3 separate regions of the Homo sapiens genome follow, and all the other regions are linked to region 2. The links come from fine-mapping of genetic effects on gene expression. A gene starts in region 2. Each other region holds a variant in brackets. All regions are shown on one strand. Distances are from middle to middle.

Region 1 (10,445 bases), 260 kb after region 2:
CATTTGTGAGTATTCTTTATATTCAGGAATATGTTCTTCATAAATATAAAAATAATTTACTTATAAGAATGTACCTATAAGAAAAATGAATTAGATGCAATTAAATTAAATTAGAAACAGATGAAACTGACATAGCTTCAAGATAGGGAGGAGCCTTCAATTGCAGCCTTTACCTCCTATTTTGCACCAACACTTTCCTCACCAACTGGTGGTGTCTGCTACCATCTAGTGGTTGAAGTGGGGACAGCACAGGGGAGCTGAAGTGGAAAAGATGGGCGACTCAGAGGCCACTCCTCAAAGCAGATAGGGACCATTCTGCAGCTATCCTCAAACATTAGTCTCAGTAACAGGTTTAGAGGGACGGCACTTCTGTTTGTGGAAAGAAGTCTGCCACCCTATGGACCACACGAAAAATGCTTAATTGCTACTTGGGCCCTGTGCCATCCTGGAAACTTCTTTTTTCGGAGCTGCTGTCCTCTTCCTGCTGGGATTTTAGGAAAGGCTGAGGGCATCCCCTCTCACAGCTTCTCAAGGATCGAGAAAGTGGAGGTGGGCAGGGGTCGGAATAACACTATTGAGTGTCCCCTTCCTTCATTTGTGTATCCTTGGGACACAGCATGAACGGCAAGAGCTGCCTCTCTGAGGATTTTTCATCATTCGATCCCCTCCCCAAATCTGCATTTCTGTCATTCACCTTGGTCAAGGCTTCCACCCTCTCCCTGGTATCCAGAGGGAGGCCGGGGTGGGCTAGAGCCTGGAGCCCTCGCCACCAAGGAGGAAGGGCTAGACACAGACTGAGAGGAGGGCAGCCGCCAGAGCAGTTATCCTGGGAGCTCTCCTGAGGGCCTGAAACACTCAAAGGAGATTAAGTGGAAATCTGCTGCTAAATCCAGCTCCACCTGAATATTTAACAGTGAACATGGGACAGTGTAGTCCATAGAATGCCAACTGGCTGATGACTGAGCAGGCACAGGTGAGTGCATGCTGACTGCTGTTCCTCCTGTCCAGTGATCCCCTTCTGAGGCCCCAGGAGGCAGTGGCCAGAGGTGAGACCCAAGGAGGAGCAGGAAGCCTCCCAAAGCCAAAGGGAAAGGTCAGCTCAGCAGAGGCTCCGAGGTTGGGGACCTGCTTCAGAGTTGAATTTGCAGGACGAATGACAGCTGGATTTTACTTAGAGTGTGTGTTTTGTCTAGGGTGGCTGTGCTTGGGCAGGGGCTGAGGTGGGGCCAAGACCCTCGAGCTATGGAGGGCAACACTTGATGTTTGTCTTACTCCGTTTCTGCTGCTATAACAAAATACCTGTGACCGAGTAATTTATGAAGAACAGAAATGTATTTCTCATAATTCTGGAGGCTGAGAAGTCCAAGATCAAGGCACCAGCAGATTCAGTGTCTGCTCAAGGCTTTCTTTTTATCCTCATATGGCAGAAGGTAGAAGGGCAAAAGGGGCTGGCTAGTTCCCTGGAGCCCTTTTATTAGGGCACTAATCCCATTCACAAGGGCAGATCCTATTCTGACCTAATCACCCGCAAGGCTCCACCTCTTAATATTATTGCATGGGTGGTTAAATTTCAACACATAAATTCAGGGGGACATTCAGACCACAGCAGCATTCCTACTTCTTCATACCCTTGACAGTGACAATCACTGAGTTCCAGAAATTGCTACTTGAAAATGTGACCCATATACTGCCCAGGCTGGTCTCAAACTCCAGGTCTCAAGCATTCCTCCTGCCTTGGCCTCCCAAAGCACTGGGATTACAGGTGTGAGCCACTGCGCCTGGCCCAGTAGTCGGCCTTGACCTGTGAGTCTAGCCCAAGAGTCAACCTTGAGGATTCGCCTGGGTTGTCAAAAAATCAGATTCTACCAGTGGGGGAAGGAAGCACAAGGTGGCCTGGGGGCACATTCTCTGTCTGGGTATCTTTGGGGACACCTGTTCTGATTGGGAGCTGGAAAGGAAAACAATAAGAGCCATTGTTAAACAAACAGGTTTTCTCCATCGAATGACAAGTGAATGAATAAAACACACTATATCCACACAATGGAGTATTATGCAGCCATGAAAAAGAATGAAGTATTGATATACACCATAACATGGAGGAACCTTGAAAACATCATGCTGGGTGAAAGAGCCAGTCACAGAAGGCCACATCTTGTATAATTCTATTTATGGGAAATGTCCTGAATAGGTAACTCTGTAGAGACAGAAAGTAGATTAGCTGTTGCCCAGGGCTGGGGTGGGCTGCAGGTAGGAAAATAGGCGGTGACTGTTAATGTTCTTTTTGGAGCCATAAGAATGTTCAAAATTAGTTAGTAGGCATGGTGGCACAACTCTGTGAGTATCCTAAAAATTATTTGAAATGTATATTTTAAATGGGTGAATGGTCTGGTATGTAAATTATATCACCATAAAGCTGTTTTAAAAATACTAAAATCCAAAAAGTAAAAAAGAAAAAAAAATAGCTCTACAACTTCGGTTTGTAGAATCGAAAAGATGAGGTCAGGAAGGGGCCGGGGCTCACAGTTTCTGAGTTTTGGTGCTTCCAGGGACCCAGGAGATCCTCAAGCCCTGGGGCACATCAGGAGTGAGGAGGGTGGGTGTTCTGGGCTGGACTGTGACTTGATATTCCTTCAAATGGATATTTTAAAAAATGTTCATTTAATATTTGTTTTGTAGGCTGAAGAGAACGATTTGACATTAACCCAAACTGTGTATTTCTTTGCTAATGTACCAAATAAGGCATTTGTTATATGTGGTTTTCTACCCCAAACATCTTTTACACCAATGGCATACTAAACTGTTTTCAATTTAGATGATTAAAGAAACTGCCTATGAGCAGAACAAAAGCACTATACTGTGCACTCTGCAGTCTGGGGTTTCAGTTTCCTGGGACTGCATCTTAAGATGAGTGCAAGGAATTTTTGTTTTCCACTGGAGGGCACTGCCCACCCTGGTGGGAACAGAGAGATCCCTATGTAGTGGCTGAGTTATCTGGCACAGGCCTTAACTGGCTCTGAGTCTTCTATTGACTGCAGGGATGTTTTGTGCCCCCTTTAGAACTACACCCTGGACAGCTGACCCTGACAAGGAATAAGGTTGAAAGATGGGTTGCCACCTCTTGCTCCAACCCTGGTTGGGGCCATGGCTAGACTCAGAAGCCCAAAGCCACAGAATCACTGAGGTGAACAACTTTAGGTGAACGAAAGAGTCAGCTTCCCTGCTGAGGTTTTCCATCCCATATTTATGACAAAGGGCTCTGCTGGGGCCTGCACACAGCCATGGTCTGCAGCCACACCCTAGGTCCCTGCCACTCTGCTGTGTCCTGTCCCAGTTCTCTGCTCACCTGAGGGGCAGTGCTTGGGTCTTGGGAAGACCACTTGGTCCAGGTCACAGGAAGGATATGATTTATGGTCCTTTTGTCCAAAAGATCCTTTCCTGTCTCAGCCCCCTGCCTACTCGATAGACTCTGCTGCGCGTCAGTCACAGACATATTTGTTTCTGTGTACCTTGGGAGAAAAACACGAGTGTGGTTCTCAAAAGGATTCGGAGCTCCTGCGGGGGCTGGCCTGGTACAGGGCAGGAAAATATTCTGGGTCTAGTGAGGACAGAGGGGCCTTTATTTGGGAGCTGAAGATTAATGAGGAGGATTAACTGGATCTAAA[CAGAG/C]AGAAACACTGGTGTGAGTAAGAAGACGTGGGCACATTTCTGACGGAGACGAGTCATGGAGGAGCCTGTGAAATTCTGTCTCAAAGCTAAACCCCAAAGATTAAGTAAACAAATATGTCAAATGGCAGCTTGACATGTTCTTGTTATTTTACATTTTGCTCGATTGGCATTTCTCATCAAATTAGCGGCAAAGCTCCCTTATGTTTCCTGACGGGGGGTTAGCACAGTGGTTCACTGCACAGACTGCCTGAGTTCGAACCCTAGTTTGGATGCTTACTAGAGACTTTGGACCCAAAGTTACTAAACCTCTCAGTACCTCAGTTTCCCCATCTGTACAATGGCAATAATAAAAATAGCACCTACGTGTTGTAACCAGCACACCACACTAGCATTACCTGGAGGGATCTCTTCAGTGAGGTAAACCAATAAGATGTCCAGGAAGGAACGAACAATCTTTTCTCGGATGTGCTTCAATTCCCCAGAAGCTGAACATGGTAGGAAGAAATCAGTTTGTTCAGATCATGTTCTGTTATTATCTTGAAGTTTAGAAGCACAGGTTTATGTAGGCAGAGCTCAATAACAGCTCCATTTGGGAACACAGATACACAAATCTTATCTAAGTACTTCTTAATACCTTGCTTAAACATATGAGTCACTGTTTCACAGTAAAATGGAATGTTTGCTCAATATGGGCTATGATCTTAATACTGTGCTATTCTTTTTTTTTTTTTGGTAGAAAAAGCATAAGGAGAGTGGGCTTTGAAGTCTGTCCTGGCTCCTCTCAGATTGTGTCCAAATCAAACCTCCCAAACCATGTGTGTTCCCTGAGACAGGCCTCACTGTTGCTGCGACTCCCTTCTAGAAGGAGGCAGTGCTAGGGAATGTTGCTCACCCCCTAGACCACCAGTTCCCAAGCACCAAAGGAAGACGTTACTGCCAAGCACCAAAGGAAGACTCTGCTTCTGTGGGGCCTTCAACAAGCCCCTCTACAGCTTGGACTCTGATGCAGGTGCTCCTTGTACCTCCCACTCCCAGAGAAACACTACCCTAACCCATCACCCCAACCTTTGAAGGAAATCAGTTAAACAAATAATGAAAATTCTACTTTTCTTTCCAAGTGGCAGAGAGGCTAGTTTCCATTAGGAGAAGTTCCAGCTAAGATAGAGGGTAGTCTTCATGCTAAAGCAAGGACTAGCAAGCCCGGGAGAGGGAGGAAGAAGGGTGTGTGTGCGCACCTGGGTCTGTGCCCATCCAGAATTAGGTTTCAAAGGGGGAACTATTGTGCCTGTGAAAACCTGAGTCATCAAAGTGCAAAGGGGGAAAAAGAATACAGAGAGGAGCAGTTGCGCAGGAGAGAGAGGAGGTCCCTTGAAAGGCAGTCATTTCCGTGCACTTTAAGGCAAACAGCTGGGCCCCCACCTGGACTCTGGAAAGCCTTGCAGGTGAGGAGGCTGAGCTGGCTGCTCTGAGGCCCAGACCAGGAGGCAACATGTGTTCTACATACACACTCCCTGGACCCATCTGGGGCTCAGCTGGGAAGGGATGAGACAAGGACCTGGGCTGCCAGATGCAATGCTCAGGGTCTCCAGGGGGTGTCAGAGAGTCAGGGCAACAGAAGGCGGGGCCCAGGACCCTCTCCTGGGAGCTGCCCCACTGCAGGAGCTGCTGGGGGTGGTATCTTAGTAGCAGTAGCCCCATGGGCAGAGGCAGCCTGCAGCTTACTGTCAGCGTGAGGGGAGGACAATGAGACATTTGAGAGCCTGCAGTGTCAGGCTGGCCATGCCTGGTCTCATTAGCCTTCAAGAAGGGGCCTGAGAAGAGGCTCTGGTGCAGGCCCAGGGAGGTAGGGTCAGAGGAAAGAGCCTGTGAGGGGTCTCAGGGGAGCTAAGCACCCACGGGAATTTGGCCCCAGCCAGGGAAAGATGAGAGAGAGGGTTCTTGCCTTATCTCCCTGTTGCAGTCTTAGTTGGACAAGTTGGGGCCCCAGTGTCCCCTGGAGGTGGCCTAACTGCAAAGCATGTAGGCCACAAGGGGCTTTTCTGGGTTGCCCCAGAGGTCCCCTGAGCCCTTGAGGAGCTGGATGCAATCAGAAGTGGGACCATATACTGCCCCCAACGTCTCCCACCCTATTTCTCAGACTCTGTCCCCACTATTTCCCACTCTACAAGGCGCCCTGTCTTCCTGCTCTGTCCTCTCTCTGACCTTCAGGCTGGTGGTCAGAGGTCCTCTTGGCGGTCCTGGGACCAAAAGTCTCATCTCAGCACCCTGAGGAGTCAGGGTCTGTTTCCACGTCTGGTAAACAGGAACAGTAACCCCTGGCTGCCCACAGGCTGTCACGAGGGCACCCTCGGCAGTGCTCCCCCAAACTCCCCTAGGGTTAAACTCACCTGGGGTGCTTGTGAAGTACCCAGGGTCCTGTGCCGCATCCCAGAGCCACTGGATCTGGATTTCTGGAGAGGAAGTCTGGCAAGCTAGAGTTTTAGCAGCTTGAGAAATGTTGGAAAGGAGTGAAGCAAAAAGGCCCCATTCACTCACTCTTCTTGGTTTGAATCCTGCTCCACCCGCCAACTGCCTAGCTACAGGACCTGGGGGAATTTGCTCCTCTAACTCAATTTCCTCATTGGTAAAATAGGTTCCCATTAGAGCTTATCTTGTGATGTTGTTGTGAGGACTAAATACGAGGAGCAAGCCCCAGGCTGGCACAGAGAGGAGCCACAGTAACTGTGAATATCACTACTAGATAGGCTTATGGAGTGAACGTGCTTTGTAGGCTGATAGATGAATTTTTTCTTCTCTTTATATAAAGTGGGCTCTGCCCTCTCTTCAATAAAAGACAGTGTCTGCACCAACCAATCCTCAAAACTCAAGTATAGAAACTGGATTGTGCACTTAATCAGGGTGGAATAGAACAGCCTGTGCCCACCCCCTCCGCTGATGGCTCATGAAATGGGCCAAGTGGGAGTGAGGCTGGCCTCCTGCAGCCCTGCACCTGGGCACCCTGCCCCATGAGGAGGAAGCAGGGCAGGGCCCTCTGTGCTCATACCCCTCTCCCTGACCCTTCCCTGCTTCAGGATTGCTGCCTTAAAAAAATTCTTTGACTGTTACCCCAAGTAGACCCACCCCGGATTTTACTGCATGCTGCAGCCCTCTTCATTCGTAAACCACCCCGTGGAGTCAGTCTGTTCAGTTCAAGGTGAAGATTTTAACTCAGGCTATTTATAATTCCTGCAATGGAGCGGGTGTTAGTTTCAAAGCAGTCATGCCAGATGTCAACTTAGAAGCTGAGAGGGAGACAAGCGTTATTATAAATTAATGTTGCCAGTGATTAATATTTGATATTTTTAACACACGTTCGTCTCAGAGGAAAAAAATCCTCTTTAATTAATGTGGCTAGATGTTGTGCAGTCCTTCCACTGACGTGGGATTACTGAAAATCTTTGGGTATAGCTTTGGGCAAAAATCTGACAGAAGAAAATAATTGAACCCTGAAGTCAGAGTCAGAGTTTGATGCCCCAGTGTCTGTACACCTGTCTCCTTCAGCTGGGACTGTCGGGGTTGGGCATCCGCCAGTCTCCTTCCCCCTTCCATCCTTTCCCCTCGGGACCTCCTGCTCCCATTCTGGACTGGTCCAGGCTGGAGAAGACACTGGTTGGTTCCATCACGGCCTGGGAGTCTGGAGATTTTTCTTTAGTCTGGGCTTTGCCAATATGTGAAGTGGCTCATCCTGTAGACTGTCACTGGGTGGGAGGAGAGGCTTGCCCTATAGACCTCTGCTATTTTGTCTGCACAGTGCAAAAACAAATGGTTGCTCTTATTTCAAAGCTGGTATATTTCTCCCCACATCCACATTTCCTGTATCTCTTGGAAAATGGCAAATCCTGGCATCCCTAGTGTGGGTTCCCACAGTGGCACTAACTTGTGATATTATCTTTCTTTTCAAATGTTCCTGAACCCGCCATTGATCTTGGCCTCCACTATACCTTCCTCAGGGTGGCCATCTGGTGGCTGGGGTTAGCATCTGACCTGCAGACAATTTGGTCTGCAGGTGTTGGCCTGCATTATGCTTAAAAAATAAATTGGGGCCAGGTGCGTTGGCTCGCACCTGCAATCCCAGCAGTTTGGGAGGCCGAGGCAGGCGGATCACGAGGTCAGGAGATCGAGACCATCCTGGCCAACATGGTGAAACCCCGTCTCTATTAAAAATACAAAAATTAGCCAGGCCTGATGGTGTGCGCCGTAATCCCAGCTACTCAGGAGGCTGAGGCAGGAGAATCGCTTGAACCTGGCAGGCCGAGGTTGCAGTGAGCCGAGATTGCGCCGCTGCACTCCAGCCTGGTGACAGAGTGAGACTCTGTCTCAAAAAAAAAAAAAAAAAAAAAATTGGAAGGACACTGGGCCTGGTGGCTCATGCTTGTTATCCCAGAACTTTGGGAGGCTGAGGTGGGAGGATTGCTTGAGGCCAGGAGTTCGAGACCAGCCTGGGCAACATAGTGAGACATCTGAAATGAAGCAATTTGGAAGATAATTAAATTAATTGCATTTTTTTCTTTTTTGATCTGGTTTCTCCTAAAATTATTTTTCAACATTTATTTTTAAATTTAGAATTTGAAGCACAATCTCTAGTATTTTGTAGGCCCATAAAATGTTACATGCCTACTCCTTAGTTTAGTAAAAATAGATATAATTTGGTAGAATCTCTGGTAGGCGATTTTTTTTTTTTTTTTACATCAGCTAACATATTCTTCTCCATTACCTGCCTGGCCCCTGTGGTCATCTGGGCTTTCACCCTTGCCAATGTCACTGAGCCTCATGTTTCTTATCTGTTAAATGAGGCCTGAGAGGCTGGGGTAGAAAGATCATGGATTCTGGAGTTGAACTGGTCCTGGATTGAAATCCTGGCAACACTGTCTTCTCATCTTGGAGCTGAGTAACGACTTAAGTTCTTTAAGCTTCATTTTTCTCATTTGTAAAATATAGATAATAGCAACCACCCTGCATGCTCTTGGTGATGACTAGATGAGAGGAGAATAATAAGAGCTTGCATTCATCGAGTGCCTGCTGTTGCCAGGCACCTTGCATGGCCTCACTGATCATCACAAAAAACCTACAAGGTAGAAGATGTTTCCAGATGAGGACGCCGAGGCTGGGAGGGATGACTGTCACAAGGGCAGAGCAGGGGCGCTGAGCACACAGTGGGCACTCAGGGACCCAGGGCTGTGTAAGAGACATTGCCAAGGTCGCCTCTACTCCTGAAAACCCCATGATTGAGACCCTGTCCCTCTACTTTTCACAGTGACCAGGCCAGGGAGGAGTGAGTTTTGCAGATGTTCAAAGACAGAACATAAAACCTGAAGGTGTCCCTCTTTATATTCTGAGTTTTCAAAAGGTGCATATTCCATTCATTAGATTATAGTTTATGATATTTGGTTCATAAGAGTATACTGATTTTTATTTACAAGTAAACCTATTTTTTTACTGTGTTGTATATGTGACATAGAAGTTACCATTTTAATCATTTTTAAGGGTATGGTTCAGCAGCATTGAGTAAATTCATGTTCTTGGGCAAACATCACCACCATCCATTTCCAGAAATTTTTCATCTTCCCAAACTGAAACTCTGTACCCATTAAACAATAAATCCCCATTCTCTCCCTGGTCCCAGCTCCTGGAAACCACCATTCTACTTTCTGTCTCTGAATTTGACTCCTCTGTGTGCTTCACATAAGCGGAATCATACAGTATTTGTCTTTTTGTGACTGGCTTATCTCACTTAACATAGCATCTTCAAGATTCATCAATTTTGTAGCACGTGTTAGAATGTCCTTTCTTTTTAAGACTGAATAATATTCATATATATATATACACACACACACACACACACACACACAGACATACACACATATGCCACATTTTGTTTATCCATTCCTCTGTGGATGGACACTTGATCCTACCTTTTGGCTATTGTGCATAATGCTGCTACAAACATGGGTATACAAATATCTTTTTGGAACCCAGCTTTCAATTCATCTGAGTGAACTGAAGAATCCCACAAGTGGAATTATTGAATCATACAGTGTTCTACTTTTAATTTTTTGAGGAATTGCCATACTGTTTTCCATAGTGGCTGCACGATTTCACATGCATACCAGCAATATACAAGGTTTCCAGCTTCTCTAAGTATTTGCTAACACTCGTTTTCTCTCCCTTCCTTCCTTCCCTTCTTCCTTCCCTCCCTCCTTTTCCTTCCTTCCCTCCTCCCTTCCCTTCCTTCTTCCCCTATTCCCTTCTTTTGATAGCAGCCATCCTAATGTGTGTGATGTGATATCTCATTGTAGTCTTGATTTGTATTTCCCTAATAATTAGTGATGTTGAGCATATTTTAATACGTTTCTTGGCCATTTGTATCTCTTCTTTGAAGAAATCACTTCTATTCAAGTCATTGGCCCATTTAAAAATCAAGTTATGGCTGGGCGTGGTGGCTCATGCCTGTAATCCCAGCACTTTGGGAGGCCGAGGTGGGTGGATCATGAGGTCATGAGTTCAAGACCAGCCTGGCCAAGATGGTGAAACCCCGTCTACTAAAAATACAAAAATGAGCCGAGTGTGGTGGCGGGTGCCTGTAATCCCAGCTACTCGGGAAGCTGAGGCAGGAGAATCACTTGAACCTGGGAGGTGGAGGTTGCAGTGAGTTGAGATCACGTCATTGCACTCCAGCCTGGGCGATAGAGCAAGACTCTGTCTCAAAAAAAAAAAAAAAAAAAGGGAAAAAGAATAAATCA
Region 2 (10,479 bases):
GGGAGTACCAGAGTGTGGGGGTCTCACTGATCCTGTACATTATCATGTTCACCCCAGCAGTCACCACCAGACAGCTCCAGTCATAGGGACTTGGGCCAAGGCTAAAGTATTCCACAGACCACAAGGCTATTGTGGGGTTTTGTTTTTGTTTTCTTTGTTGTTGGTTGGCCCCAAATTCTTTTTAATACTTCTCCCATCAAAAGTGGAGTCTATGCTCCTCCTCTTGAATCTGGGTGAGCAAATGCTTCCTGTGACCAACAGGGTATAGTAGAAGTGATGCTATGTGACTTCCAAGGCTAGATTAGGAAAGGCCGTGCCACTTCCACCTGGTGTTCTAGGGATACTCATTCTAGAGGCAGCCAGCTGCCATGTAAGACAGCCAACCACCCTGAGACTGCCATGCTAGGGAGGCGATATGTTTGCAGATGCTTAGGTTGACAGCTTCAGCTGAGCTTCCAGCCAACAGCCAGTGTCAACTGCCAGCCACATGAACACAGCATACTGAACGTTTAGCCCAGCTGAGCTTCAGATGTTTGCAGCCCGCTGACATCTGATTGTAGCTGCATAAGAGACCCTAAGCAAGAACTGTTCAACTGAGCCCTTCCTTATTTCCTGACCCATAAAATAATAAACAAAATAAAATGGCTGTTGGGTTTATATCACTACATACTAGGGGTAATTTGTTTCATAACAATAGTAACCAGAATATGAACCTTAGTGATTATCTGGTCAAACCTCCTTGTACAACAATGGGGGAAACGGAGGCCCAAAGAGGAAAAGACCAGACTTCCCACAACCAAGCAAGGGGAAGATCGGGGCCAATGCCTGGGTTTCTTGACTCCCAATCTAGTGCACTCTCTGCCACACAGCAAGAAACTGACAGGGAGGACTCCTCCCCCGCCACCCCCCGCCTCATTAATTCCATGCATCAAGCAAGCATGAATCAGGTATTTTGAGTGCCTGGGATTGTGCTGAGCACTGGGAATATACAAAGGACCAGGCAAGAGTCCCTGGCTCGCAGAGGCAGTCACAATCTGACTTGGGCATCTCCCTTCCTGGCACACTCACTGGTGCCAGGCACGCTGCTGCATTCTTTAATTACATCATCTTAGGTGGGAAGAAACCTTGAGATGGGAGAAGACTATGCCTGTCATTCAACCACAAACCCTTACAAAGATTGATCCATGCCAGGCACAGTCCTGGCTGCAGAGCATAAAGACTCAGTGGGGATCTGCTCTCTGTCCCTGGGTCTGAGCTGCCTGGGTTCTGGGTCCCTCCATTCTGCCCAGGGCTGACCCAAGCAGGGAAGAATCCCTGGACTTCAGGAGCACCCAAGAGGAACCTGAGTTTGGCCTGTCTCTCCAGACACCTGCTTCCCCTTTCCCCAGGATATTGCTGGAGGGGACTGGGCCCATCAGGACTAATTAACTCCTCTAATGGAATGAACCAGTTTTTCCTGGAACTTAGCCCAGGTGGGAGCAATCTCTACTTTTCTAGATGGAGAAATGCTAAGTGTCAAGAGGTCTTGCCAGCCGGACCCTGGGCTAGCGTGCATGTGGCAGGCGCGGTGGCGGGAGTGTGCTGTCTGGATGCAGGCTGAGTTCCCAGCCCAGGAGCCTTAAACAAGGAGGCCTCTAGGGTCCACTCAGCTGGTGGCCCCCGTATCGTTCTCTGTCCTTGGCCCAACACCAGCCCTAGCTCCGTCTCTCAGAGTTCGCTGCTGCTGCTTAGGCCTGACATCCCTAAGCGGGGGGAAGGTGTCCATGAGCTAACACTCAGGTCCCCTCCAACCCTATGACTCCAGGTCCATAGTGTATGAGGCCCTGAGCCCTGCCCAGGCCCGAGCTTCTGATCTCTTCTCTTTAAGAGCTGGGCCTTCAAAGGCCACCTTTGAGCCCCAGATACAACTTCACTGGGATTACCACAGCAACCCAACCCTGCTTTCAGTCCTGAGGCAGAGCCATTCTACTGATCTTCACAAGACCTGAATTACTAGGGCTAGGTTCTCCCCAGAGCCCCTCCCCCACCAACCCCCCTCCCCCCAAAGAAGGCTCTCACATTTGATTTGGAGCCTGCAAGTCTCTGCAGGCTGCTTGGGGTTGGGGGAGGCAGGATGAAGTGAGCTGAGACGCAGACAGGAGGCTGCCAGCCTGCTCTTGCCTTCCCTTCTCTTGTTCCCCCATGAGCGGGGAGGCCCTATCACCCTCTAATGAGTCTGATAAAGCAATTCAATTTTCCAGGCTGGGAGAGAGTGAGGCATGCTGGGAAAGGATGCTGGCTCCTTGGCCTGGACCTGAAGGAGGGTCAGTCCCTGGCAGGAGCTAGAATACCAAAAAGGGAAAGTGTGAGCACCAATGGATAGAACCTTGCCTTGGCCTGGAGCCCCTCACCACAAACAGGTTTCAAAGAAGGAAGATGGAGAGGAGATTGGATGGCTCCAGTCATCCTAAAGAGGCTGAGCCCATACAAAGCTCCCAGTGGGGAAAGGGGAAGGGTAAACGGCTTTGATTTCAGGCTTTCAGCTTCCTACGGACAGGGTCAGCGTCGGCACTCAGAGGGTGAGGACCTTATTATGCGGGTGGAGGGGGGGCCTGGAAAGGGTGCAGGTGCTTGACAGCCTCCATCGGTGCCCCTTTAGAATCTCCCATGGCCCTCTCTTCCTATTCTTTCACCACACCCTCACCCCTGATGAGGGAAACCCGCTGTGGCTGACACCTTCTGTGAACTGGCTTTCAGACAGGTGCTCTTCCCTGACAGCCTGAAGAAGCCAGGGCACTAAGGAGAGGACAAAAGAGAAAAGGTGAAAATGAGGGAAAGAAGCTTGGGGAACTAGGAATTTCCAATAGTGGCTGCTTTGTGGTCTTGCTTAAGCCTGTCAGGTATCAAGGTCTTGGAGGAATGAAGAAGGGAGGGAGTAGGCAGAGTCCCAATGGCAGAGTTAGGCTAGAAGATGTACCTGAGGTCCTGGAATCAACAGGAAGCCCAGAATCAGCTGCCACCCCATCTGCCCACATCACAGCCCCCAGAGCTCAGGGCGAGGTCTGGAGCCAGGATGTTCTAGCACCACCAGAGGGCAGCACCCTCACATCCATGGTAGGCTGTGTCACAGTAGCCTGGGCAGGGGGCTCTCCTATCCTTCCCCGGCTCTGTGTTTTGAGGGAACACCAAGACCTCACACAAAGAAATGATGGGGACAAGTCCCATAGTGCTAACTGCAGCATATCGACTCCCTCAGAGAGGTACACGTAACAGGTGAGCCCAGAGTTCTAGAATAAACCTTCAGCAAGGGTGAGGCATTCTCTGGAGGCCTCAGGACTGAGGCTGAGCTCCCCTCTCCCGAGCTGGTCAGTGCACAGAGCTGGGAGTCCTGGCCCCATGCACCTTTACCCAGCTGCCTCTCTCAGGCTGGGCCCTCTGTTTTTGTCAGCTCTTCCTAGGTTCCTATGCCTGTGTCCCAACTTTCTGATCTTCCTCCCTTCCCTCTTGGCCTCCTTTTTCCCTGGCAGCTTTCTCCCTTTACCCATCTCCCCAGGTGCTCATCACTATCCACAAGCACCGCAGAGTGGAAGCACCAGTTGGGCAGATTTACTAGGATGAGTGGCTGTTTTATTCACTGATGTATTTCCAGTACCCGGAACTGCTTCTGGCATATCGTAGGTATTCAATAAGTGTTCATTGAGTTAATAAGTCAATCAGGGGTGGGATACTATGGGTTTTGTCCCCTTGCCTACTACACTCCCTTTGTTACAATTACTGAGCTCAGTCATCCTGATGAACGGAAAGCAGGGGAGAGACCCCAAGGGACTTTGCCAGGACACGGACCAGATAGGACTTGAAAGTTATTCATTACATTAATATTCTGTGGTTCTTTCTTCCTCACTCCAGTTTCTGGCCTGTCCCGGGTCTTCTCTTCCCAGTCACACTTGGGATATTTCTTTTCACTGCAGCAAACTCAAAGACAGCTAAACTCTGAAATACAAACATCAGTTTCGAGGAGCAGGGACTGGGCACAAAGGGGGTGCCAGTAAATGTGTGTTTCTGATTAACTCACCTCCCCTGCGTGTCAGTACAGATCATCAAAGATCATTGTCATTTTGGTTTTCTGGCCTCATTAATAATGAGACTTTTGCTTGTAAAAATCCCTTGCATTGGCACTGAGCTTTTAACCTTTCCTGAGACACACATAGGCCCTTGTCTTGTTTTTCTCAGTTGAGCTAGGTACTGCCTGATCTGGAACTGGGAAGGTGCACAGGTGTCCAGGGCAGGTGTGTCATTCACCTTTCATTTCTGCCTCAAGATCTCTTTACATCATCCAGACAGGCATGGAGGCTGCCTGAAGCTGTAAAAAAGAAAAAAAAACCCAATGGGGATTAATATGAAGATGTAAAATAGGTTCTGGACTTAACAAAAACAAATGAATCTGGAAATTGCTCTTGGGATAGGGCCAGTAAAGTCCTGTTGGTGCCTACGTTTTGGGTATGGCAGCTTCTCAATCACTTAGCAAACAGGTTCTCAGAGGCAGGCACTGTGGGAGCTATCAAGATGAAAAAGCACAATGCCGCCTGCAGGAGCTCAGGGTTAGGGAGGGGAGAGGAGACATATACACAGGCAAAGTCAAATTGTAATGGGTAGAATAAGAGTAGAAACAGGAAGGGGTCATGAGGCAGGACACGGGCATTTCCTATGTGGACCCCAGAGCAATGACGAGCAAAGGCTTTAACTAATGACTTTTCAGGGCCACCCACCCACTCCACATCCATAAAACATTTCGCGATGAACACAGCCAGAGCTACGGTTTCCTTCCATCCGGCACAAGAAGCGCTTCTCTGCCCAAGGCCACCCCGTCCTCCATTCCATCGCGGGGACTTTGGTGGCTGGGACAGAGGCGGAGAGCATCAAGACCATGGGTGTCTTGGGCTACGTTGGGCCTCCGAGGCGCAGGATGCGGGGCGGGGTGGTCAGAAGGCCCCAACACGGTCCCTGGGAAAGGAGAGGGCAGCCTGATCCTCGCGACAGCGTCTCTACCCTCTTTCTTCCTTGGCCTTCCGTCAGCCGCAGTGAAACGGCAACAGTGCGACCAGCTTGGCGGGGAGGGGGCGAGGGACGAAGCAAGAAGAGCCGGGCGGAGGTTAGAGGTCAGGGGTCGAGAGCGCTTCGGTGTCAGCGGGCTGCGGTGGGAGGAGCTGCGGGCCCGGGGGAGGCGCGGAGCAGGGCTGAGGGGGGCGGGAGGGGTTGCCGGCGGAAGCGCGCAGGGGCGGCGCGCTGGGCTGGGCACTGGCGGCGAGGAGGTGACGCGCTTGGTTGGGGCTCGGCTCCGGGGAGGAAGACTGCGCTCGGTCGCCAGGGCCTGCAGTGAGTCGGATCGGCCCCGCGCTGCGCCGCGCCCCGCCCACCCCGCCCCGCGAAGGGCGCGTCTGGGCGAGGCGGGGCCCCGGAGGAAAAGGCGCCACTGGGGCGTGGCGGCCGCTGCCAGCGCCGGAGGGAGACCATGAGCCCCTAGGGCCCCAGCCCACCGGCGCCGAGGCGCCCCCTCCCCTATGCCACCTCGCGCCCGCCCCCTGCCGCGCGCGAGCCAAGGCCGGCGCCCCGCCCGGAGATGGGCAGACGCGTAGATGGCGTGGCTCCCAGCGCCGCCAGATCGCAGGAACCAGGCGCCGGGGCGTTGCGCTGAGGCTCCCTCTCCGCGCGGCCCGGGAAGCCTGCAGGTGTCCTTGGCCGCTCGGCCGCCGCCCCCGGTACACCTTCGCCAGTGCCCAGAGCCCGGCTCCCCAGAGCGGCCCCGCCCCCCAGGCTCGGCGCCGCGCAGGACGCCCCGTCTGAGGCACCCCCGCCCCAGCGCGGCCCCCGCAGCGCTGCGCCCGGTCCGGCGCAGCTCCCAGCCGCGGACGCAGGACCCGAGGCTCGCTCCTGCGGGCGCGCTTGTTTTCCAGCTGCCGCCTCGCCCTGCGCAGCCCCCGCCCGCCCGGCCGCCGCTCTCTGCTCTGCCCCGCCTGCCTTCCTCGCCCGGCGCTGGATTTATGAATGGGGGGAAGAGGCCACATGCCGCCGCCGCCGCCTCGTGTTGACCGCAAGCAGCCCGGGCCCACGGAGCTCCGGCTGCCGTGAGAGTGTCGGCCTGGCCCCGGCAGCCGCTCGGAGGACTTGTTGCTGCTGCGCTGCCGCCGCTGCGGGGAAGCCGGCTATTCCGGGGCTTGGTGCGGTCTTGGAGCCGGAGGGTGGCCCGTGTGAGCGCGAGCGCCCCGGACCTTCGCGGTGCGCGTGGACTGTGCGCTTCCTCGTCTTTGGTCGGGGTGAAGGCGGGGGCGTGTCCCCGGCCCAGAGCGTTTGTGTGTCCCGTCGTAGCGGGGGACCGCGTGTGTGCTTGCTTCTACTTCCCCGGGTCCTCCCTCTCTGCGCCTCCCTCTCTCCGGAGCTTCCTGCCCTAACCCCAACCACCTGTGTACCGGAGAAATCCAACTCCTCCCGCTCCGCGTCCTAGGGGGATAGGCAGGGGCAAGCCCAAGCCGCAGAGGGGGCCGCCACCGCCTCCTGCCTCCTCTTCGTCTCCTCCCCCTCCCCCGTCTGACGCTGCCTCCTCGGGAAGGGTGTTTGGAGGGCAGCGGCCGCCCCAAGCCGGAGCCCCGCAGCGCTTCTTATGATCAGCTCGGTGTGTGTCTCCTCCTACCGCGGGCGCAAGTCGGGGAACAAGCCTCCGTCCAAAACATGTCTGAAGGAGGAGATGGCCAAGGGCGAGGCGTCGGAGAAGATCATCATCAACGTGGGCGGCACGCGACATGAGACCTACCGCAGCACCCTGCGCACCCTACCGGGAACCCGCCTCGCCTGGCTGGCCGACCCCGACGGCGGGGGCCGGCCCGAGACCGATGGCGGCGGTGTGGGTAGCAGCGGCAGCAGCGGCGGCGGGGGCTGCGAGTTCTTCTTCGACAGGCACCCGGGCGTCTTCGCCTACGTGCTCAACTACTACCGCACCGGCAAGCTGCACTGCCCCGCGGACGTGTGCGGGCCGCTCTTCGAAGAGGAGCTCACCTTCTGGGGCATCGACGAGACCGACGTGGAACCCTGCTGCTGGATGACCTACCGGCAGCACCGCGACGCCGAGGAGGCGCTCGACATCTTCGAGAGCCCGGACGGAGGCGGCAGCGGCGCGGGGCCCAGCGACGAGGCCGGCGACGATGAGCGGGAGCTGGCCCTGCAGCGACTGGGCCCCCACGAGGGAGGCGCGGGCCATGGCGCCGGGTCTGGGGGCTGCCGCGGCTGGCAGCCCCGCATGTGGGCGCTCTTCGAGGATCCCTACTCCTCCCGGGCCGCTAGGGTGAGTGGCAGGAGCCCGTGTCTCCCCATCTTGGGTCTGCAAGGGGTCCGTGGTGGGTGGTGGGTAGGGGCCGGGAGGAGCAGGGACCGAGCCTGACTTACCTTACCACCGCAGATTGTTCCCGCCTTCCTCTCAACCCCCCTCCGTGGCTCGCAGGGGAATTACACACTCCCACCCTCTCCCCTGCACGCTCCATCAGGAGATTGCACACACTTGACTTACTACTTGGACCCAGTCCCAGCTGCCTGCTTTGCCGCATCCCCTCCAGTGAGTGGGGTGCCCAGCTCAGCTCCTCCACCCCCTTCTTTGGTCTGCACAGGCTGCCCTATCTTCAGCTGCCCTCCACTCCACACAGGACTACGGTCCTGGAAGAGCTGGAATTTGGTCTTCTGATGGGGGCAGGCAGGGTTGAGAGGAAGGAAACTAGGGTGGGTTTTGTTAGATGCTTCCATGCCGTGCCACCTCATTTACATCCTCCCAGCAGCTCAGTGTGCTCACAACTATGCACTTCAGAGAGGAGGATATAGGCTTCAGCATCTTAAGCTCAGAAGAGGCAAAGCTGAGACCACAATCCGGCCTCCTTTCCAGGTTTAAGAAAGGCATTCTTTCTGCCAGGGAGGATACCATGCCCCTGAGGCTTCCTGCACACCTGGGATGTCCTGGCCTCAGCTGGGGTGAGAGGAGAATTAAACACGAAGGGCCTAGCGTTCTAGGCTCTGCAGGCTCCCACGGCCAGTGGCCAGCCACAGGCTTCCTGGTGATGATACCAGATTTTTGTTGCCGCTTCTTTTCTTTCTGCTGCAGCACAAACTGTCTTTCCAGAAAGCCCTGGTTCAGGTTACTGCTTGAAATGGGTGTATGAGGGAAGGGGGAAGCACAGGTTGATTTAGGCAAGACCTACCGCCTCCTCCCCAAGTAAATCCAGTTTCCCTAACTCCTTTAGGTGAAAGGGGAGAACGGGGGAGGTGCTTCCCCCATTATGCTTCGACAGCTAAAAAAAAAAAAAAAAAAAAAAAAAAATCCCTGAAGGATGGCTTTAGATTCTTTAAAGAAAGAAAACTCTGGGGGCTGGTGTCGGATCTCATGGTCAGCAGCCTAAAGCCTGGCTGGAGTCTGTCTGGGAGACAGGAAAGAGCAATGTAACTTGTTGGGTCTGGGGACTGCTGCTTGCTGTGGAACCTGGTTGGTTCCTCCAGCATCCCAAATTGTCATGTTAATGAGTCTCAGAGCACCCTCCCTTTCCCAGCACCCCTGTGCTGGACTCCTTCCTAGTCATAGAAGAAGGCAGGGTAGGGAATTGGGGAACAGGCCTGCAGGGAAAAGCCAGGCTGGCATAAATGCCAGGCCAGGGCAGATGCATCTTCTGCCTGGAAGAGAAGGGAGGAGCAGAGGTCTCAGGGGCCATGGCATACCGGGCTGGGGCTGCAGGCAGCCACGAGAAGGCAGGGATCTTTCTCAGGACTGACAACAAAGCTAGAGGCAACTGTCTGGGTTTCTTTCCTTGCAGCCCTGAGACTGGCTAAGAAGGTGAGGGCATAGTGATGCCCCTGGCCTGGGTCTGCTGTGAGTTCTACAGACTTCTCATGTAGGTCACTAACCTTGCTAGTGTTAGCACTTGGCTGTCTGCATTAGGGGAGAGAGGGCAGGCACACATCATTCAGACTCTTTCAAAGTTGGGGGTCGGGGAGGAGAGATAGAGATAGAGATGGGGAAAGGGGACAAACCAGGGAAGCAGGGATGAGATGAGGTGGTTAGGGGAGCTAGGCCCTATTTCTGAGCATTCTGGGACTTCTAGGGGCTTTTCACCTGCTCTTCTTCCCCTCTGGAATTCCAGGTGGCACCCCACATATCATTGAGTTTATTTTCTTCCTAACTCACTGCTGAATGGCCAAGCCAGGGGGCCTCTTTGAGTAAGCTCAGAGCCTGGCCTGCCCCTGGAAGTCTTCCCAGGAACCCAGGGTGCTTTGCCCCTTTGACATGGAATCACATCAGCCCAGGCATTCCAGTTGAGGTCTTGAAGTTTATGATGGAGCAAGGTTAATTCTTCCATTTAAACATTGAGAAAACCAGGATTCAGAGACATTAAGTTTCTTGCCAAAGACATTTAACTAATAGCAGAGGCAGGAAACCACCCCTAGTTTCCAGCCTTCTGGTTGTTCATCCTGATGTGAATATCTGGATGGAGCTCTGGCCAACACATGCACTAAAAGAGGACTTGCCTCCTGCTCAGGAGCCCAGGCAAAGGCAACCCTCACCTGCTCCCGGGACACACAAGTGGGAATACATAATTTTTACAAATTAATGAATAACTGCTCATTATTGAGCACCCCAGACAGATACATTGCTGTATATACTTTACATTAATCTCTAATCCTCCCAATAAACTTAAAACCCGGTGATTATCCCCGTTTAATAGATTGAGGCTGTGAGAAGGTAAACAACTTGCCTGAGATCACACAGCCAGATAGTGGCCAGGCTTTGAATCAAAGCCAGAGTCCCTGACTCCCAAGCCCTTGCTCTTGTGATTACAACACCTTCTTTCCACTGAACTAGGCTGTTTTTGAGGCAGAGAGCTTGTTTCTTACTGTAGCCTGAGAAATGTCCTTCTGAGGTTCTGTACCTCCTGTGGATGACATCAGAAAACCCAGGGGCAGATGGAGACGTCAGAAGGAAGACTTACTGTATTACCCCTCCAGGCCTGAGGGTACTATGCCATGCGGGGAGTTCTGGGGCTGCACTTTCCCCCCTCCATTTGCCCCTGGCTTGTCACACTGTCCCATCCTTCCCAGCCCTGTTCCCCCCGGTATATGTGCTACCTTCCCTCGCTCACAGCTACCTCCTCCCTGGAAGGGCCCGCAGCACTGTGGGGTGGTGGGCGAAGAGGGAGAGAGGAGCAGTGCTCTGCCCTGAGGCGTCCTTTCGCACACAGCAACCTGGTCATTTGAGTAGTGCGTTATGACAGGAGCAAAACGATACAAATGGAAAGTGAACTGAGCTGATTATGAGAGCCTGTTGCCTAGCTACAGGCCTGGCCCAAGGAGCTGTTCCGCTCAGGCAGGCTCCTGGACTGGGATGCTCACCCCTGCTCCACTGTGCTGGGCCCATGGGCAGCTGCTGCTGTGGTTCCGTTTCTGTGGCCTGAGCTGGGAACAGGTACGAGGGGCAGG
Region 3 (10,479 bases), 53 kb after region 2:
TAAGAAATGTTGTCTTTTACCTGGGCACATTGCTATGCTAAATGGATTTGAGCTTGTGGTAGGAATGAAGAATGATATTGGGAGCAACCAGAAATTTCTGCCATAGACACTTTCCTAGGCACTAAATGGAGATACTATTCATATATCTAGAATCTGTATCTAGATTTGTATTTCTCCTAAGATTTATGAAGGGTTTTTGTTTCCTGCTTCTTTTTTTTGAGACGGAGTCTTGCTCTTTTGCCAGGCTGGAGTACAGTGGCGTGATCTCGGCTCACTGCAACCTCCGCCTCCTGGGTTCAAGCGATTCTCCTGCCTCCGCCTCCTGAGTAGCTGGGACTACAGGCACACGCCACCATGCCCAGCTAATCTTTGTACTTTTAGTAGAGACGAGGTTTCACCACATTGGCCAGGATGGTCTCGATCTCTTGACCTCATGATCCGCCCGCCTCAGCCTCCCAAAGTGCTGGGATTACAGGGGTAAGCCACAGTGCCTGGCCATTTCCTGCTTCTTAAAATTGTTCTATACTTTCTAAATTTTCTTCAGCGTGTATGTGTTGATTTCACAATGAGAGAAAAACACCCATCCATCCTCCTTCAAATCATTCACACAGATGACTATTAACCCTGCCCAGAGTCACCTAGGCTATGCTGCTTTTACGAGGAAGGCACAAAAATTCTTAAAACAGGATTTGAGCAAAATATCAATTCTGTTCAGCTTGAATGAAATCTACCATATCACCCTATGAGGAGGCATGGAGCAGAAGTGGTGAATCCTCCAAGGCACTGATGAGAATCACAGCTTCATGCACAGCCAGCTCCCCAGCCCTCAGCCTCCCCTCCTCCTGCTCCCATCTCCTCTTGTCTGGGAGTACCTCCCACACAAGGTCTTCTCCACGCTGAAATCCAATGCCCTCAGGGGCTTCTGGGCTGCATGCCCATCTGGACTCAGAGCTGAATAGCAGGGGTGGATGCTGTGGCTCTGTGGGTAAGGCTCAGCCTTTGCACAGCCTGTCACAGATGGCTCTGTTTATTTGTGAATCGGAGGTATCCTCCTCAAGCACCCAGAAGGTAGGTCAAGGACCTGGAGGAGTCTCCTTTTCCCCACAGTAAGCCAAAGGCTGGGCCCAGGCATCCTGACCCCTACTGTCCCCAAGGAAATTGTTCAGGAATGAATCGTAGGCCAGCTCAGCATGTGACTAGGGCACACGGGGAACCCACCGGAACACTTTCTCTCAGTGTGCTGCTTGTCTAAGGCATGATGAACAGGTGTTTGAGAGGGGACGGTGGACAAGCAAGGATCAGTCTATTCCATATGGAATTGAAGCATGGGTGCTTAATTCATGAGAAGAGCCCAGACATTGCTACTTATTCCAGAATCTTTCCTCCCCTTCATCTTACTAAATGGACATCAATTTTACTTGGGGCTGTAATGTGTTCAGTTGATACCTGATCTCTCAGACTCTCTTGCAGATGTTCACAGTGCTGGACCTTGAAATGTAGGTTCAGGGCTCTGGGAAGGGTATGTGTGCCTGCAAAGAAAGGCCCAAGAGGCTGCATTTGGCCTCACCCTTCCCCTTCTTCCTGCCTGGAGGAGGAGATGCCTGGGAATGAAGCAGCTGTCTCACACTCCTGAAAAGGAAAGCTCTATGCTAGGATGGTGGGGCAGGAGCTAGAAGGATCTGAGGTTCTTCTTGACTTTCTTGACAACATCTCTGGACTATCTACTTCCTGATTTCTTGTTACATGACACAAATAAAAGCCTCATTTGGGTAAGCCAGCATGGTTGGGTTTCTAGTACAGGGAGCCAAATACAATTTTAAGTGATGCCTAAAGATTGTCAAAGAGGGTGCCTTTTTGTGTGATTGCAGACTCGCCAACCAATGTGCATTTCCTGTCCAGGTTCTGTCCTCAGGCTCACTTCCTCTTAGGTAAGACCTGGCCAGGCTGCATTGTCCCAGCAGAACGCCCAGCAGGCCTGGGCATGCATCTCAGATGAGGCTGAGCTCTTTGACTGTTCATCTGTATTTATCACTATGGGGGAAAGTGAAGAATAAAATACCATGGATTGTTTTTACTCCTCTCAAGAGACAATGTGGAATACAAGAAAATACATCTTGGCTGAGAAGTCCCTGAGAATTAAAAATTTGATCCTCCTGAACTAGGAACAGGGGGGCTTTTCCCTCTCTTTATCAAACCATTTAGGGCATAAGGGTGCTTCCCACTGAAAGCCCCATGGATTGCAGATCTTGAAAATCCTTTGGGATCTGTAAGATGTTAGGACTTTGTAAAGAGGAATTGATGATCTTAGACTAGATAGTGTGAGAAAAAAAGAGGAAATGATGAATATATCATCTATCAGGTTTCAGGTTTTTCTCAATCAACCAACATCTTTTCAAATGCCTACCATGTGTCTATATAACTTTCACAAAATGAACAAATGTCTTTAAAAGATTCCTGCAAAGAAATTCGGGTTGGAGATAATATCAATAGTAAAAGCATAAAAAACAAAAAGAATATTTCTGGGGTGACCCTTTTCTTTCTTTATAAGTTCTTTGTTAGCCACTTTATAAGGCAAAAGCAATGAGAATCCAATCAGATCTGAAAAGAAGTTGACAGAAAAATGCAACATTTAAAAAACAATTGTCTCTTTGGGAGGTCGAGGTGGGTGGATCACGAGGTCAGGAGATCGAGACAATCCTGGCTAACACGGTGAAACCCCATCTCTACTAAAAATACAAAAAATTAGCCGGGCACGGAGACGTGCGCTTGTAGTCCCAGCTACTCGGGAGGCTGAGGGAGGAGAATGGTGTGAACCGGGGAGGCGGAGCTTGCAGTGAGCCGAGATCGCGCCACTGCACTCCAGCCTGGGTGACGCAGCGAGACTCCGTCTCAAAAAAATAAATAAATAAAAAGCAAAAACAATTCTCTGAAACATGGTTGCCATTTATTATTGTTAATGAAGGATATTGTCCTAAGAGTTTTTGTCTTGAGATATTAGCTAATGATAGCAGAAAATTTCCCAATTAGTAAGATATTTAAAAATTAAGCATCTAGACCATGAAGAAAAACTTTCTCAATTTTTTCATTGATGCTTGAAGTCATTACAATGCTTAATCCGGTATTTAACATTTCATTAAATCTAATGATAAACATATGCGTGAATCCTTTAGTGTTCTTAGTAATTGCAAAACACAAAAAGCCATATGCCCTTAGGGAAACACTTGCTTTTTCTACCATGAAAAATGGCTGAAATAAGACATGAAAAACAATATGGCAATAAAAAATGCAATCTTTTGTCAGCAGGCATTATTGACAGATGCATAAAAAACATTGCTGAAAAAATTTTAAATGAATATTAGGACAAAGTATGCCTGATAGGAAATCTGCTATATATTTGATTTAAAGTATAGAGATTTCTAACATCTCAGTTAATGGGATTTGCTACATTTTGTTGAAATACGAGAATTATATGATAAAGCACTATTTTTGAGCCACTAAAGGGAGGATGAGTGGGAAAAGAGTAAATGACTTCCCTAATAAAAACGCTTTATAGAAAAAGTATTGACTGGAATAAAAAGAGGGATCTGGTGTGGTTACAAAGATAGAACCACACTTAATATTCCTTTACTGGGCAGCAAAGAAGTTAAAGCCATATGTGCACAAAATGCTGTGTTGTCATTGATGATGTTAATTTTATAAAAAGAAGGTCTGTAAAATATAACAGAATTCTTATAACACTTTGAAATGGGATATGGAGTGACCAGGGAGGTCTTTTGATTCCCATAAAGGTTTACCAATTTTCTCATGGCAAGTACTTAAGGTTTATCAAAATTAAAAAGTTACTTGTTTTTCTTATACAAAACAACAAGCATTCCATTTTAAAGGTGATGCTTTATTATCTTTTAAAAATTGATGACATGCTAAGGAAAAAACATTTGAAAACAGATGTTTAGATGTTTCCATCATTACACAATTTTGCCCAAAGCACTGTTTTGTAATACCTTTAAATCTCTCATACCTGTACACTTAAAAAAGGATTGGAAACAAAATTTTCTACCTTATTTTAAAATCTTGTGAATGAGGCCATATGTTTTGATTCCATTTTATTAGAACTATAAAGATATAATTATATAATAAATGCTTATAAAATACAAAGTTATAAAAATATTTGTTTGCTTAAAAGAACAGACTCTGGGTGCTATAGCAATTATGTGATGCTTATTGTATACTGCCTTAGACTTCTGGCTTCTTATCTTGAACACCTGACCTCAAGCCATCCTTGAGCGCTGGGATTACAGGCATGAGCCGCTGCACCCAGCCAACCTCTGGCTTCTTATGGAGTACTTTGTCTTTTGATGCAACTGGGAGCTCAGTGACTGCATCTTCTTCTTTCTGTGCCTTTCCTCTTCCCTAACTTCCCCAACCCTACCCTGCCCCAGTGCCTACCTCTTTGATCTGCAGCCGCTGCATTTGTGAAAGTGAATTTGAAGTTCAGGCCAATAGGGAGTTTCCAGTTCTTGTATCATACATTTTAAGGTCCATTTACTTGACCTACTCTGGCTCCCAGAAGCCCATAGGATAAGCTCTAATTTCTTAGCAATACAGCTGTCCTTCTGCCTCACTGTCTCTATCAACCTTGTCAAACCCACCTTTCTCCAATACTTCTCCAGAAGCCCTTCCTCTCCCCTACTAAGTGGAGGTCTAGATTTGTGACAAGGTACTTCTTAGGTCCCATTTCTTCGGCCCTCACCCCCTCCTTTTGGTCTTTTCCTCCTCTGAGGGCTTTCCTATAGTGCTTACCTGCACAGTCAGGACTGATAATAAGCATTTGTCGTGATGAGGACGTCCTGTCTTTCCCGCCTGTCAAGCCTTGAGCATCTGTGGTGAGACTCCGCGTAACCCCATCACCTAGGATAGCCCTGTGAACAACAGAGGATGCTGTGCACAGGCCCTGTCAGGAAATGCTCATTGGTGACAGCATGACCTCTGGTGTCTGTTTCATGACCTGTTTGCATCTGTCACTTGCACATTTTTCTGTGGTGGAGGGAGTTGCCATGTGCTGTGGTTCTAGAATGGCTGCCTGCCTGGTGGCAAAGGGAACATGTGGGTCAGCAGTGGTGGGGCTTTTCAACCTGTTTTGGGGACAGCCAGCTATCCTGAGCCCAGGAAACTGAGGGCTGGATGCTGGCTCATCCCTTGGGTAAGAGATACGGTAATAACAGCTGTTCTGGGCCAAAATACATTTAGTGACATCTTGGGAGATTTTGGTGCATGAGGCATGCTTTAAAAATACATGAGAATTTAAGGGTTTTTTTTTTTCCCACATCTGCTGAGGAAACATGTCCACACATCTAGGCTAATATTAGGGCTGTTTATTTCCTAGGGTTGACATTTCCTTGGCTGTCTAAGATTGCTGCTGGAGATAGAATGACCGATATTCACTTTGGCATCCTTCAGCCAGAAAGGATGATCAAGGTTAAATAGGAGCAC[G/A]TTTGGGCAACACAGACAGACAGACACCCAGAAATATGTACGCCACTCCAAACAGGGTCATCATCTGACCCACAGTGTTGCTGGGGCTCAAAGTGGCCCTTACATAAAGGACTCCAGTTTAGAGGGTACATTTCATATGGGAGACTGATTGAGAGGTTCAAAAATCCAGTTTTATACATAGAATAAGAAACAGTTCTTCCCGTGGGAAAGACTACTTTGGGGAACAAATTGAGGCCTGGAAGGCAACCAGCCTTCCTCTCTAAAAAAAAAACAATCTCTAGCAAGCTTTCAGTGAGGGGGGGGAGCTGAATGGGGGTCTCCATTTGGGGAGAGTCCTTCTCAAGCATCTCTACCTCTGGGCTTTTTCTCTCCTCTGGGTACAAAGCTCCCCCATTCTCCCTGGTCAAATGGATGGGGTGGGGGAATCTCTTTCCCATGTTATTCTTGGTACAACTGAAGAATTCCAAAAGGGACTTTGCATACAAAAAAAGAGAAAAGGTGTTTTTTTAACTGAACAGGTGTCTTCTGGCCCCGGGCAGTAAAGCCAAACACTGACATTGGGACTGCAATGAAAGAAACCGAGGCATTTATTGTAGGGCACCAAGCAAGGAGAATTGGGCCACTAATGCTTAAACCCTGAAGTCCTCAGTGGCTTACAGGTAAGAGTTTTTGAAGGCAAGGAGACGGAGGTTACAGGCAAAGTCATAAATCAATACATAGAGTCTGTGCATTGGTTTGACCTAAAAAGGCAAGACATCTCAAAGTGGAGGAGAGAGGAACAGGTCATAGGTGGATTCAAAGATTTTTTTGATTTGTGATTGGTTAAGGAGGCTTTGTCTAAAAATTTGGAAGCAAGCAGAAAAGAATTATTAGCTCTGGCTCATGGGCATGACCTCCTCCAAGCCCTTCAGGAAGAATTTTAGAAGAAAGAACAGAGGTCAGAGTTCAGTCCTTAGTCCCCCCTTATCTGAGGTCGATATGCCAGCAGATCCATTTAGTAGGGGTCCGGGTTTCTGAAAAACAACTCAGGAACATATGTTGAGATGTTATCTTTAGTTTCTAAAGGGAACCAAACATGACTTTAACTTCCTTGGCTATTGTTTTAAGCCACTGTTACCTTCCTGCTTACCAAGTTGCTTATTTACTTCTCAAGGCTAGCTAGGAGCCTGCAATTTTCCTGGAAGGAACTCAAGATTTTTCTTTATTTAGACCCCTAAGAGGGATCCCTACTCGTCTCTGGAGAAGGAGGGGGAGAAAGAAGGGAGAGAGCTGGCTGGGCGCAGTGGCTCATGCCTGTAATTCCAGCACTTTGGGAGGCCAAGACAGGCGGATGGCTTAAGGTCGGGAGTTCGAAACCAGCCTGGTCAACACGGTGAAACCCCATCTCTACTAAAAATACAAAAATTGTCCAGGCATGGTGGCACACACCTGTAATCTCAACTACTCGGAGGCTGGGGCGGGAGAATCACTTGAACCCGGGAGGCGGAGGTTGCAGTGAGCCGAGATTGTGCCACTGCACTCCAGCCTGGGCAACAGAACCAAGACTCTGTCTCAGAAAAAAAAAAAAAAAAAGGTGGGGGAGAGTGAAAGAAAATAAAGTACAAAACCACTTGCAATCAAAACAGAATTTATTGATGCTATACTAGTAACTTCTTTTACCCTGTCCCTTCCCCCACACTCTGAGCATCTTCAGAGAAAGATCTCGTTTATAGTGTTCAGGTTCTTCCTAGGCTAGAAGCCTCGGAAAAATAAGTTTACAAGTGGCTGATGAGTGAACAGTAGAACTCTCAGGCTCCCTGAGTTTCCAGCAGCAGAAATAAAACATAAATAAAATAAAATAAAATAAAATAAAATAAAATAAAATAAAATAAAATAAAATAAAATAAAATAAAATATTCCCCACCCAGAGGATGGCCCCTAGCAGTCAGGTTTTAGGCTGCTAGAAGAGGGCTCCCAAAGGAGCTTTTAGAGAGGGCTGCCCAAGAAGTCATCCAGGCCCCTGTTCCCAGGCAACACTGAGGAACTCTGCACTCCTCTGGGCTGCTTGAGTTTCTTGCATTACAACAGTACTTATGTCAAAAAGTTAACCATCTCTGGTTTGGAGAGAAAGGCCCAATAGTCATCATCTTCCATTTTAGCACCAGGGAGCCTGTTCTGGGGCCCCGAAGAGGAACTCAGAGCCAGGGAAGAGGCCCTTGGAGGTGGGTAGGACAGGGTAGGTCCTGCCCAGCACTAGACCCTCTCCTCCTGAAAACACGGAGAAACTGGGCTGGTGGTGCTCCAGCCCCAGAGAGGCCCTTGGTTCCTTTGTTGACCCTCCCAAGTGACTTGTTGCACCTACCTTCCTACCTTGTTTGTCATTTGTTCATTCATTCATTCTTTCAGCACAGATAGACCCAGCCTACCATGTGATAACACTAAACCTCAGAGCACCGCAGGAATACAAAAGAAATACATGTAGCCTTGTTCCCTTTTCACATAGAGAGCTAGGGACAGGGTGGGGACTGCCTCTTGAAGTTCCATGAAGGCAGAAGAGGCACTGTGGAGCATTTAATAGATGCAGGCATTCTTCTGCTTAAGTACAATTCACCCAATTCCCCCGACAGCTCTGGAAATAGGGGGAGAAATAATGGGCAGGGAAGCAAGTTAAGTGGCTGATCAGGGACACAAGTACTGGCTTTGTGGTAACCAGATCCCAACACTGTTGCATGGGGAGAGAGTCTCAGTTGACTGAAAGGATCAGATATTGAAACATTCATAGCCGCAACACCGAAACTGCACCCTGGAGGGCTGAGTGAGGAGGGGAGGGGCTGGAGTGCAGAACAAACCTGGTCCCACAAATAAATCCAGCCCCAGGACATCACTTTCCTAATGAGAAGCAGCAAGAATTTCTGCAAGGTTTTTGGAAGACCCTTTGGAAACAGTCATTCATTGTTGGTAACCCTCACTGAGTCCTTAGGAACAGCCAGGCTTGCTCTAAGCACTTTACATGGGATAACTCCTTTAGTCTCCCTAGCAACCCTAGGAAGTAGGTACTATTACTATTCTCATTTTGCTAATGAGGAAAGGTAAAACGACTTGCCCAAGGGCACAGAACCTTTAAGTGGCAGGGCTGGGATTTGAACCCAGCCTAGCTCCAGCCTCTGCTCCTAGCTATAAGTCTGCCACAGCTGTTGTTGCCATTCTTGATCCAGATTGGCCCCCTTGCTCTTTGTATGGGCCCCATTTCTTCCCCTTAAGTCTTGGCATCTGTACCCCAAGGGACCCGAATACCAGGAGAGACCTAAAGTCTGTGTTCCCCGGACCCGAGGACCCCGTGCCTTGATGTGCCATTGTCATGGGGATGTTTGCCCCTTCTGATGTCTCCTTCTTAGCTCCTGGTTAGTTCTCTTGAAGCATCCCACTTTCTCACTTTGGCTTGCAGGGCAGGCTGAGCAAACACCATCTGCCAAGAGGCCTGCAGCAAAACAAACTGCAGCAGCCCCAGAGGTCTTGTAGCTTCCATTTAGCAAGCAGCCCGCACGCCTCTGTGGGCAGAACCCTTGGGGAGAGGGCTGCTATTCATCACTTGTTTGGCTGTGGGAGGCTCAGCAGTCTGTGTAGGGTGGGCTTTGCTGGGGAGAAAGGTGCTGGTTTTCTGAGAGCTGAGGAGGCCACTGGGAAGGTTTGGGGCCCAGGAGGGCTGCTGCTGGACTCCAGGTTGCTCAGGATCAACGTCTTTTCTCCATTCTGATGCAGAAGAACCATGTGCTTGCTTGTTTGCTATTTATACTGCAGTTGCTGTCTAGGGGTTTTCTTTGAAGGGAATGAATAGACTCTGAGGCTCTAAGTACATTTCTGGCTCAGTGCTGTGCTGCACACACCTCAGTTCAGCTGATACGAGGCCCGTCCTTATTCCCCGCTGCCTCCATGTCCTTCTGGAATCCGTACATTCCAGATAGCACCACTCCCCAATGCCTCCACCGCCCACATGAACACACTCCTAAGTACATTTACAATCCGGCTCCTGCTTCCTTCCCTGGCCAGCAAAACTTCATTTCAGCCTCTCTTAGGATTAGGTTATGCCCTTAGCCATCATCTTATTCTGTTCCTTTTAGCAAGATGCGAACCTCTACATTCTGTCATTCTTAATCCTCCTTGCCCCACTTCCTATGTATCTCACCACCAGGAAGGGACTGAAATCGCCTTTGCAGAATTATAAGTAATGAGAGAAATCTAACATGACAGACTCCATCTTGCTTCTAACCTCACAGGCTAAATTGGTTTTTTGCTTATTCTAGTCTGGAGGCCAATATAACTATGAGAGGAATTTGGTTTACAGTTAAACTTTGAGGCCAGAAAAACTGCCCCTTCCTTGTTCAGAGATTGAAGTCGCATTCGTAATACATGGTTAGAATCATGGTAAGGGCTCTAACTTTGCTGAAGAATAGGCATAGTTAAGCAATAACCTGCCATGACTTAGCATGCTTTTCTAGAAGTTTTTTACTACCCCCGAGTCATGTAAGCAGGGGTCACAAGATTTATAACTTCCCCAGCTATTCCTATATAACATCACTATTGTGAAACCTAAAGAACTTCCCCATATGTATCTGAGATATTTTTGAGATTTTTTTTCAGATTTGGCATTTTGGCAGACCAAGAGATAGATGCCACCTGGTCTTGAGACCCCCTCCCAGTACCTGACTCAGCTGCACAAAGGCAGCTTTAGACACCCCTGTGATCTTATCCCCTGTCAATCAATTGTTTCAATTCTCCAGCCCCCTGGCTGCCAGAGTGCCTTTAAGAAACTCTAGCCTTGGCCGGGTACCGTGGCTCACGCCTGTAATCCCAGCACTTTGGGAGGCCGAGGCGGGCAGATCACGAGGTCAGGAGATCGAGACCATCCTGGCTAACACGGTGAAACCCCATCTCTAATAAAATACAAAAAATTAGCCAGGCGTGGTGGCGGGCGCCTGTAGTGCCAGCTACTCCGGAGGCTGAGGCGGGAGA

Direction of the effects. Positions count from the first base shown, and alleles are read on the strand shown. Sizes are in standard deviations (SD) of each study's normalised expression. Not every link is listed here.
As copies of CAGAG replace C in region 1, the expression in gastroesophageal junction of the gene that starts at base 5,449 in region 2 goes up (small effect, 0.24 SD a copy in GTEx).

What was found. PIP is the estimated chance that this variant, and not a neighbour inherited with it, causes the effect.
Region 1: its variant is fine-mapped to the expression of KCNC4 in gastroesophageal junction (GTEx, PIP above 0.99).
Region 3: its variant is fine-mapped to the expression of KCNC4 in lung (TOPMed, PIP above 0.99). The same link has a PIP of 0.9 or more in skeletal muscle.

The regions. Positions count from the first base shown.
Region 1 is chr1:110,460,218-110,470,662 of GRCh38, forward strand. No RefSeq gene overlaps it. Among named protein-coding and RNA genes, the nearest start is that of PROK1, 14 kb to the left of the region's middle. The variant CAGAG/C (reference allele first, on the strand shown) is at 3,663.
Region 2 is chr1:110,204,866-110,215,344 of GRCh38, forward strand. It overlaps KCNC4 (potassium voltage-gated channel subfamily C member 4), which reads left to right and starts at 5,449. Exons shown (of 4, transcript NM_001039574.3): 1 at 5,449-7,312. The coding sequence starts at 6,635. It overlaps KCNC4-DT (KCNC4 divergent transcript), which reads right to left and starts at 5,122. Exons shown (of 2, transcript NR_046546.1): 1 at 4,746-5,122; 2 at 3,585-4,339. RefSeq lists silencers at 3,047-3,106, 3,117-3,166, 5,129-5,808 and enhancers at 7,046-7,934, 10,286-10,365.
Region 3 is chr1:110,258,039-110,268,517 of GRCh38, forward strand. It overlaps a transcript of KCNC4 not described here. Among named protein-coding and RNA genes, the nearest start is that of KCNC4, 53 kb to the left of the region's middle. RefSeq lists an enhancer at 4,830-4,909. The variant G/A (reference allele first, on the strand shown) is at 5,491.